Homo sapiens: one gene and its partners. The protein of the gene in region 1 interacts with the protein of each later gene in a pairwise test. Each region holds a gene or a part of one and is shown on either strand. Other genes may lie near its edges.

Evidence for each region.
Region 2: the proteins of CSGALNACT2 (region 1) and SSMEM1 interact in binary tests that used the Homo sapiens proteins (3 or more experiments, as listed by UniProt).
Region 3: the proteins of CSGALNACT2 (region 1) and ARL13B interact in binary tests that used the Homo sapiens proteins (3 or more experiments, as listed by UniProt).

The regions. Positions count from the first base shown.
Region 1 is NC_000010.11:43,151,935-43,155,592, reverse strand, and holds part of CSGALNACT2 (chondroitin sulfate N-acetylgalactosaminyltransferase 2), read right to left. Parts: intron 697-3,658; 5' UTR 444-696; coding exon 1-443. UniProt on the Homo sapiens protein: Transfers 1,4-N-acetylgalactosamine (GalNAc) from UDP-GalNAc to the non-reducing end of glucuronic acid (GlcUA). Required for addition of the first GalNAc to the core tetrasaccharide linker and for elongation of chondroitin chains.
Region 2 is NC_000007.14:130,210,860-130,214,259, reverse strand, and holds part of SSMEM1 (serine-rich single-pass membrane protein 1), read right to left. Parts: intron 781-3,400; coding exon 726-780; intron 1-725.
Region 3 is NC_000003.12:94,035,597-94,039,254, reverse strand, and holds part of ARL13B (ADP-ribosylation factor-like protein 13B), read right to left. Parts: intron 2,704-3,658; coding exon 2,501-2,703; intron 1-2,500. UniProt on the Homo sapiens protein: Cilium-specific protein required to control the microtubule-based, ciliary axoneme structure. May act by maintaining the association between IFT subcomplexes A and B. Binds GTP but is not able to hydrolyze fit; the GTPase activity remains unclear.

The DNA of each region.
Region 1 (3,658 bases):
AAGGGAATGACCCCATACTCACTGGGTAGTTTGGCCCCTATGCTAACTTCAGCTTTGTCAATTTGGGAATGAAGAAACTCTAAAAGATCACTAGGTGCTTGCTCTTTGTTGCTCTGATAGCCTATGCCATTAGCCCCTACATTCCTTCTTTCTTGCAGTGACCGCATCTTCTCACTCATTTCTTGTAATTCTTGTTTTAGTTGGGCAATTTGGCGTTTCAGACTGGTTGCCCTGGTCTGATAATGTTCTTCTTGTTCCTGTAGGAGGGCTTGATAATACTCTTTACCATAATTTTCCCCAACAACACCAGGAAGAGATGCATTTCCATCAGTCTGGGGGGCACATTCCAGGAGGTACATAAATAATACCAAACTGCAGAGCAAAGCAAGGCCCAACAGCAACCAGTGGGTCCGGGTGTGAAGAATCAGTCCTCTTCTAGGCATTCTTATTAATGTGTATTTGCCTAACAAAATAAGCTCTTTGTGTGTTCATACCTTTAGTAAAAAGTTATCAAAAATTAAAAACAAAATCAGAATTTCCATAAAATAATTCTGCCGTAGCTTTAAGTTTTTCTTTCTTCAGCAGTCATGACTACTTGCAGAAATGGGAAATTATGTATACTTTCTGTATTGTTACCATGATATCCAGAATAAAGCAATCTGATATATAAAATCCATTATATTGGTAGTGATTTTTCTGAAAGACACAGATCAGAATCAATCAGAATTTTGTTCCCTTAAGGATATCAAATTTGTTTGTGGCTTCAGTAAACTTAGCTACGTGACTACTACATGCAGAGAACTATGAGAGGTACTAATATAATTTAGAATATTCAGTAAATACTAGGAGAATTTTTTTTTTTTTTTGAGATGGAGTCTCACTCCGTCACCCAGGCTGGAATGCAGTGGCACAATCTTGGCTTACTGCAACCTCTGCCTCCTGGGTTCAAGTGATCCTTCCATCTCAGCTTCCTGAGTAGCTGGGACTACAGGCATCTGCCTACCACTCCCAGCTAATTTTTGTATTTTTAGTAGAGACAAGGTTTCACCATGTTAGCCAGGCTGGTCCTGACCTCAGGTGATCTGCCTGTCTTGGCCTCCCAAAGTGCTGGGATTACAGGTGTGAGCCACTGAGCCTGGCCTGGGAGAATTTTTTAAAATACCTTAAAAAACAATAAACTATGTATAATACTTTTAACTATTATGTCTACACAGCTATAACTTGAATCAAAGAAACATTAAAATTACGTCAGCATAGTCTGTATTACATATATTCTACTGTTCTCTAATTATTTGAAAATTATATTGCCTATAACTCTTTATTAACATAGTATTTCAATTACCGCACCATTTCCCAACTAAAGCTTATGACCATTTGGGAACTGAGTTTATAGAAACTGTTTCTGTTACAGTAATAACGGTTTACTGGAGAGAGAGATTTTCTCCCAGTTTATTCAACTCAAGCATTCTACCTCATTAATTTCTACTGCTCAGCTCAGCCAATCTAGGAGACTTAAAATTAAGTGGGGGAAAGAACAACTTCAAAAGCTCACAGACATCTGAAAAACACATTAAGAAAACATTTTTATATCCAATGTCCTCCAGTAGATTATTTGCACATTAGATCACATAATTCTTTCCACTGTATTATGCATCAACAGATTTCCTACAAGTCTAGAAAGGTTTGGAGTCTATATAAAGAAAAAACATGAAGAATTTAATCATCCTTATCAGCAGAGAAAAAAATTCAAAAACCATTTATACATTTATAAAATTACATGCTATCGTTCATGCCACAACCAGTTGTGCGAACTCTTCCATGTCTTTAATGATTCTTAACTCTAAAAATAGAGGTTTAACTTAGGACAAGGGAGGCAAGGAGGACTCCACTGCAAAGAGAACTTCCATTGTAACAAAGTGCTTGTTGAGAAGGATAATGTGATATGACAGCAGGTTTTTAACAGTAATGGTTTTCTCACTGCAGCAAAACCTGGAAGATCACTACAGGTTATCAGTCCTAGCCACTTTTTTAATGAGTAGAAAAACCTGGATGCTTTCTGTGGCAAATGCTGCAATGCGTATTTTTTTTTTTTTGGTAACATGTCTGTATAAAACATAGGACAGAAGAAAACTTCTTATGGCCAATATACCACAAATAATGGTCTTAACTCTCCTTAGTCATTTATTATTTTAGTAAACGAAATGATAACCAAGTATCTTGAAAAATTTAACTCACTACAAGGGAGTCCTTTTTTTTTTGAGACAGAGTCTTGCTCTGTCGCCCAGGCTGCAGTGCAGTGGCGCGATCTTGGCTCGCTGCAAGCTCCGCCTCCTGGGTTCGCGCTATTCTCCTGCCTCAGCCTCCCGAGTAGCTGGGACTACAAGCGCCGGCCACCACGCCCGGCTAATTTTTGTATTTTTAGTAGAGACGGGGTTTCATCGTGGTCTCATCTCCTGACCTCGTGATCCGCCCGCCTCGGCCTCCCAAAGTGCTGGGATTAGCCACCGCGCCTGGCCAAGGGAGTCTTTTACTATTACAGCATCTCTCTTACTGATTATAAATCTTGTTTGAGTGATGTAGAAAAAAACAGAAAAAAAATAGTTGGCTTTAAGAAATACCATCTAATCAAAAAATAACTAGTATTATTTCCAGGACTTAACCATACCTCAAAACCATAATCCCTAGCATAAGAAAACACTTGAATTTCATTATTTAAAAGATAAACCTAGCGGTATCTGTTTTAACTATTACTAGCCCATTTATTAGGAAAAAGAACTGAAAATGTGGAGACATAATCTTGTATAATAAAGATATACATACTTTAATTAATAAAGATATACATACTTAAGCATGTTATACTCAAAACTGAAGTGAAACTGGGTAACAGAACTACCACTATCTTTTATTAATATGGTACCTCATATGTTTTCTTTATATACACAATGTATTTTAGACTATGAGCTATAACTCAGACAATAGGTCACTACTGAAGGTTTACTTTTCAATAAAATAGAATGGAAATTATCAGTGGCAGTGTTAAAAAGCTAAGGTCATTTTTCTTCCTCTTCCCTTTAAGGGAAATACAGGTTTTGAGATATCCTACTTAATATTACAGTTGAATATTTTCCAATAAAATGAAAGGATACTGTAATTACTTCAGAATGTAAAAGTTGCATAATTCTGTGGTTATTAAAAATGAAAGATTTCAATTAAAATCTTATTTGCCTAGTTCCCGAAAGAAACTCTTTGGCCATAATCTAGAAGATTACATTATAGCTGTTCTATCATATAAATATATTAAGAATATTATAGAAAACATTTTTCTGTTGTTACATCTTGATTGTCATCATTCTATGAAATGTGTTTGTATCATGAATACGGTTCATTCACAGCCCAGAGTTAATCCCAACAAGCCTTCTAAGCACAAATGCAGATAGTTAAGTGTTTTGAGGAGAGAAAAGGATAATGTGAAGATGGGAAAATAAGCTGTTAAAGGTATGTAATATGAAGCCAAAGATCTCAGGATTGAAAGAAACCTTACAAGCCATCAATTCTAACTCTCTAAAACTGCTTAAAAAACTGACTTCCTTTTACGACCAAGATGAAGTAACGGGCCAGATTTACTCTCAGATTTGCTCTCTTTGGTTGTCTTGAAACA
Region 2 (3,400 bases), on another chromosome or scaffold:
CTTTTTTAAAAAGACAGGGTTTTGCTATGTTCTCCAGGCTGATCTTGAACTCCTGGCCTCAAGCAGTTCTCCTGCTTCAGCCTCTGGAGGTGCTGAGATGACGTGCAACCTTTATATCAGTAAAATTTTTAGTAAGCATATGTACACACAGGAGTTTTGGAGAACCAGTTGTTAAACATTTACCAGTGCACCACTGCTTATAGGTTATTGAAAAAGATGTCATAGACAGTTCATAATCCTGTAATAGCACTAACCATGAGGATGTGGGAAGGGCAAGCAATGTGAAGGGAGAGAGCTAAGGAGTGAAAAAAGAACTTGAGTTCCACCTCCCAGTAATTCATAGCTTCTTGCTAAGCAGCTAAACTGTCCCTCTGCACTAGGGAGTCCAAAGCAAAAACTCACCCAACCCCAATGGGCCTCCTCTAGTGTGCAAAGTCTTACAATGCTGTTGGCTGTTCATCTCTGTTTTTTGCTTTCCACACTCAGCACAAATTTCTTTCTTTGTCTTTATTTCATTTTTCTTTTTTTCTTTTTCTTTTCTTTTCTTTTTTTTTTTTTTTTTTTTTTGGTACTGGGTCTCACTATGTTCTCAAGCTGTGGTCTTGAACTGCTTAGCTCAAGCAATCCTCCTGCCTCAGCCTTCTGAGTAGCTGGGACTACAGGCATGCAACACCACACATATTCTTCCCCTCATAGTCCAACACCAAATATGCACTGGTTCTCACCTTTCCTTACTGAAGTACTTGTCCCACTGCCTTCATCCTTTTTATCCTCAGACATCTGTTTCAGAAACATAGGTTAGTAAGAGTGATCTCAGTTGTTTTTTGATAATATGTACTTGTTATAAAACACTATTGCTGAGGCCCATTTATAATGTCTGGTTTTATTTTTTTATTATTTTATTTATTTATTTTTGGAGAGTCTCACTCTGTTGCCCAGGCTGGAGTGCAGTGGCATGATCTCAGCTCACTGCAACCTCTATCTTCCGGGTTCAAGTGATTCTCCTGCCTCGGCCTCCCAAGTAGCTGGGATTACAGGTGCCCGCTACCACGCCCGGCTAATTTTTGTATTTTTAGTAGAGACAGGGTTTCACCATGTTGGCCAGGCTGGTCTTGAACTCCTGACCTCAAGTGATCTGCCCACCTTGGCCTCCGAAAGTGCTGGGATTACAGGTATGAGCCACTGGGCCTGGCCTGACAATGTCTAATTTTAAACATTCAGTTTAAACAAGTACTTACTGAGTTAAATAATAAGCTAATTCAGTATGTATTGAGTTCCTGTTATAGTGATCCTACTTCCACTTCCCATTAAGACTATGCTTTGATAGCAGCATCTACCAAAATGTTTTGGACCAAACAAAATGGAACAGACTTGAGAGAAAATAACACTGACAAGGAGCTATAGCTTATAAAGCTTTCCTGTACCCATTTACATTACAGAGAAGTAGTGTTTTTAAAAAATTTGATAGTACTCAGATTAGTTTAGTTGTTGTTTTTTTGTTTTGTTTTTTTGTTTTTGTTTTTGTTTTTTTTTTGAGACGGAGTCTTGCTCTGTATGCCCAGGCTAGAGTACAATGGTGCGATCTCAGCTCACTGAAATCTCCGCCTCCCAGGTTCAAGTGATTCTCCCGTCTCAGCCTCCCGAGTAGCTGGGATTACCGACATGCACCACCACGCCCGGCTAATTTTGTATTTTTAGTAGAGACAGGGTTTCTCCATGTTGAAAAGGCTGGTCTCGAACTCCTGATCTCAGGTGATCCACCTGCCTCAGCCTCCCAAAGTGCTGGGATTACGGATGTAAGCCACCGCGCCTGGCCCAGATTAGTTTAGTTCTTAAAGGACACTTGATCAGGGTACATTACTGATAGTTCTTTAAGACAGAAGACATCTACCATACACAAAGATCTTTACCGAATTCATGAACTTAATATCTCCTTAATCCCTCCGAAAGTTTCCTCCAAAATGTAATCATGATATATTATTTGTGAATACAGCAACCAAAAGAAATGGATTTCTTTGAATAGTTTCAATTTCAAATATTCTGCCCCCCAATACTCCATAAATATATTTGTCCCATTTTTCAGATTAGTGTCCCACTTTCTAATGCTGAAAGTGATTTTGCCAAAAGACACAGATATAAACCAACTCTTTCAGAAAATAACAAAAACTAGAAATTTTCATTAACACCTTTGACATATAATTCTCTCTCCAGGAATCTATCAGCAAGAAATAACCCTCAGAAGAAAGAAAGCTTTGTCCACAGAAACATTCATCACAGTATAATTAGGATAATAGAAAATTCAAAAGTAGACAATGGTTTAAGTAAATTATGGTACAATTATATAATAAACAGTTGTAAAATTATTATAATAAAAGTATGTCATAACATGAGGAAATAAGTGTGCTACCATACTGGGTTAAACATCAAGATGCAAATTTGTATATACAGCTTGAGCGACAAATTAGCTTAAAATATGAAAAAAAAGACTTTAAGGAGCATATAAAAGTGATAGCTATGGTTGGCTTTAAGTGGTGAAATGGACTTTTTCTCTTCTAATTTTTTCAAATTGTCTACAATTAGGAAAAAAATGAGTTTATGTGGAAGTCCAGTTTCTTTGGGATGAAAAGTGCCATAGTTCGGTATTTATAACTGCAATCTAAGATCCTCAGCTCATTCTTAATATCTGATCTCTGCAATGGTAGGCAAGCATCTTTAATGAGGTGCCTTTTTGTTTTCTGGGTTACAGCAATCATTCTCCAAAAATCTTGAAAGCGGAGTTCACTTTTAAGATACCACTTTCTGGCCAGACACGGTGGCTCATGCCTGTAATCCCAGCACTTTGGGAGGCTGAGGCGGGCAGATCACAAGGTCAGGAGATCGAGACCATCCTGGCTAACACGGTGAAACCCTGTCTCTACTTAAAATACAAAAAAAATTAGCCGGGTGTGGTGGTGGGTGCCTGTAGTCCCAGCTACTCAGGAGGCTGAGGCAGGAGAATGGTGTGAACCTGAGAGGCGGAGCTTGCAGTGAGCAGAGATTGCACCACTGCACTCCAGCTTGGGTGACAGCGAGACTCTGTCTCAAAAAAAAAAAAAAAAAGATACCACTTTATAAAAAATGCTTTTGGAAGAGGCTTAAATATTTTAAATTTAATATGTATCACTTAGGTTATAGAAAAGGAAAAAAATAAATTTAATATATGTAAAGAAAATCAAAATAATTGGAAGTTTATAAACCTAAAAGTTAACAGTAGTTGGTTATTTCTACATAATCTGGAGTGATTTTTATTTTATTTTGTCTTCTGCCCTATAATTTCCACATTTTCTATATAATGTGTACTTTTGTAATAGACAGGAGAAGGTATTTAAAAACACTTATTAGGCTTATATCATTTCCACAG
Region 3 (3,658 bases), on another chromosome or scaffold:
TGCTGGGATTACAGGTGTGAGCCACCGCGCCCAGCCAAATAGTAATTATTCTTATTAATTCTTTTCTTAAGGGCTAAGTCTTCTCTTACAAAACTAGGAAAACATTCCTTCAACTCAACCTATGTTTTTATTTCTGCATAAACATGTTTCTTGTTTAGTATAAAAGAATAAAAGACTAGAATATCTACAGATTGATTCTATAGAAGTATATGACAGAGTAGTAATATAAAATATTTTATCAAGTTGTGTATCATATTTGAACTAGATAATAACTTCCATAATAGTGTTCAGTGGCTATAAAAATAAGTTACCATATGTATCATTCAGATTAAATAAGTATTTCCATATTAGTTACCACTGAACATTTACTATCTCTGTGATTTATAGTAATGTTGTTCCATACATGATGAGTAATGTTATTAAGATGAGCAGCCGGCCGGGTGCGGTGGCTCACGCCTGTAATCCCAGCATTTTGGGAGGCCGAGGCGGGTGGATCACGAGGTCAGGAGTTTGAGACCAGCCTAATCAACATGGTGAAACCCTGTCTCTACTGAAAATACAAAATTAGCCGGGTGTGGTGGTGCATGCCTGTTATCCCCATTACTCGGGAGGCTGAGGCAGGAGAATCGCTTGAACCTGGGAGACGGAGGTTGCAGTGCGCCGAGACTGCGCCATTGCACTCCAGCCTGGGCAACAAGAGCAAAATTCCACCTCAAAAAAAAAAAAAAAAAAAAAAAAAGAGCAGCCAGAGACCAAAAAAAAAAAAAAGAAAGAAACACAAGTATTGTGGATCTTTAACTGGACTGTAAGTATGGTATAGCAATGTAAATGTTCATTACCATAATATTTACTAGCTGTGTTCTAGATGGAAATACATATCCTTTTATTATGAACCTAGGAAGCCAAGATTTGGAGATTTGCAATTTACTACTTCTGTGACTTTGGACCTGGATCTTTTGAGCCTTAGCTTTCCCACAAATGTGAATAAAAATAACCACTTCATAGAGCTGTATCAAGGGTCAGATAAAGTAATATATGTGAGAACACTCTGTGAATTAACTTTCTCATAGGATAGTCATTGTTATTAATTTTATTTATTAGTAAGCAACTTCAGGAATACAGTATTAATATATTATTTTTACTTGGCATGTTTTACTGTTTTTCAAAAACACTAGAAATGACTATCTGAACCAATTAGATTGGATTTAGTGAAGTAAAAAGCTTGTTTTTAATCACCCGTCTCCGAATGTCAATTTGCTTTTAATTATGGAGTATTGGCTCAACAGAAGAGGTCTCCTCAAGAGGAGAGGTCTCAGACCACAACTGGCATGGATAAAGAGAAAGAAAGAAAGGGTAAGGAGTATTGGAAAAGCCTGCCATAACATGATCTAGAATATCATTATGGAAAAGGCAAAAACATTTAAAAAGTTACTAACATTAGATTTCTTTTATCCAACTCAATTTTTTTGTTGCTTCTGTTTTTATTTTCTTAGTGGAGGAAAAGGAGTTTTCACATAATTATGGCCATATATTTAATTTTTATAAATATTATATATAAAAGGTATACTTAACATGCATGATTGGTTGTACTGAGCTTTATATGATAAAAATACATACTAAGAAAAAAACAAATATTCTCACAGGAACTAAAACCTTGTATCAACAGCTGCCAAAATCATTCACTCTAATCTGTCTTTTATATAAAGAGATCCCTAGATGAAAGGCACGCTCATATTATTGAGCACTTGGGGATAGAGAGTCATTTCTATAAATATTTCTTTAAGTCCTATTGATGAATTAAATGAAAAATACCAGTTATCAGAGGATTTCCTTCACGGTATAAGGAAGTACCTCATAATGGGTCACCAAGGGTAGTGAGTTCTTGCTCACTGGGCTACAACTATGTTAAACTACATAAAAGGCCAGATGGAAGGCAACTATGGATCAGATTTTGCTTGAGTTGAATGATTCTCTAGCAGCTCACCTTCTATCCTTGCTGAAACTAAAAAGGTTCCTCAGTCTCAACGTTATTGACATATTAAGCCTGATAATTCTTTGTTGTGGGAGACTGTCCTGTGTGTCATAGGATGTTTAGCTGCATCCCTGGCCTCTACCCAATAGATTCCAAGTAGTACTCCACTCCTTCCCCTAGTGGTGAAAACTAAAAATGTCTCCAGACACTGCCAAATGTTAAAAACTACCCTGTGCATTGAGAACCACTGCACTAAGGTACCCACAAGCAATCAGAGACAAAAATTTAAAACTCTGGAAGACAATGGCTACGTAAGGAGTAAATTTAACTATTATACAACCACCAGAAAAATTAGGAATCTACCACCCAAACTTGTACAGAAAAAGATCCACAGAAATACAAAATTTACCTAGTGTCTTCCTTCACACAGAAAGAAGAAACTGAACAGATAAAACTAACAACTGATTCATAAAATTGTTATGTTTTTGATCCTTCAAATGCACTGTGGTACAAAATTAATCTACTTACCTTTCTTCTCGTAATTTTCGCACTCGTTCAGCTCTTTCTTGTTTCTCTTGTTCCTCAAGAGCACGCTGCTCTGTTGTCTCTTTTTGGATGCGTTCATTTAAGGCATCAAAGTCTCTTGCAATAACATGTAGCAGCCAATAAAGGCCTTTTTTAATGGACTTGTCAATTTTCTTTCCATACCCCGAGATTGCTGAACATGGTTCCTAAAACAGAAATTTATTTGACTAAAAGATTAAAAGGTCTCCACACAAATCTATTCATAAACCATTAAGTATAATTAATGGCAAATCAAAATTAAGCCATTTAAGTTAATAATATGAAGCATCTGCTTATTTAACTTCCAAAACATAGCACTGCAATGATTAACATCAGTATATAGAACTTAAAATATTTTACAGATAACATCTGTACACTATGTAAGATATTATAAAGAAGAGGGTGACAGTGCCACTTATAATATTAGAAGAAAAAATTTAACTACCATAAAAAGACATCTCTATTGATTAAAAATGCCAGGAAGTTTTAATTCCTTATACTACAATATACAGCAGTAAACATCCATAAGATTGACAGCCTAATGTTTTTTGAAACCAAAATAAATTATTAAATCCACTGTTCATCTTCCTTAAGACTGTATGACATCTCTCCTGATATGATTTATCTTTTCTTTTTTTGTTTTTTAGAGGCAGTGTCTCATTCTGTTGGCCAGGCTGGAGTGCAGTGGCTGAATTAGAACTCACTGCAGCCTCAGCCTCCCAGGGTCCAGTGGTCTTCCCACCTCAGCCCCCTCAAGCAGCTGGGACTACAGGAACACACTACCACACCCAGCTAGTTTTTGTATTTTTTGTAGAGCTAGGGTCTCACTATGTTGCCCAGGTTGGTCTCAAACTCCTGGGCTCAAGCAATCTGCCCCCTTCAACCTCCCAAAGTGCTGGGATTACAGGCATGAGCTACCATGCCCAGCAAAATAATTTTTCAAAATTCATTATGAATCTCTCATATGTTTAAATTTTGTATTTACACTTTTCTTTCCCATTTTACAAATTTCATGCCATGATGTGTTGGCTATGTTAAAACGCAAATGTGAAGCTCCTTGAAATCATGGAAAGATAGTTCATGGAAATAACAATGAAATAGACAACAAATATTATGGTATTA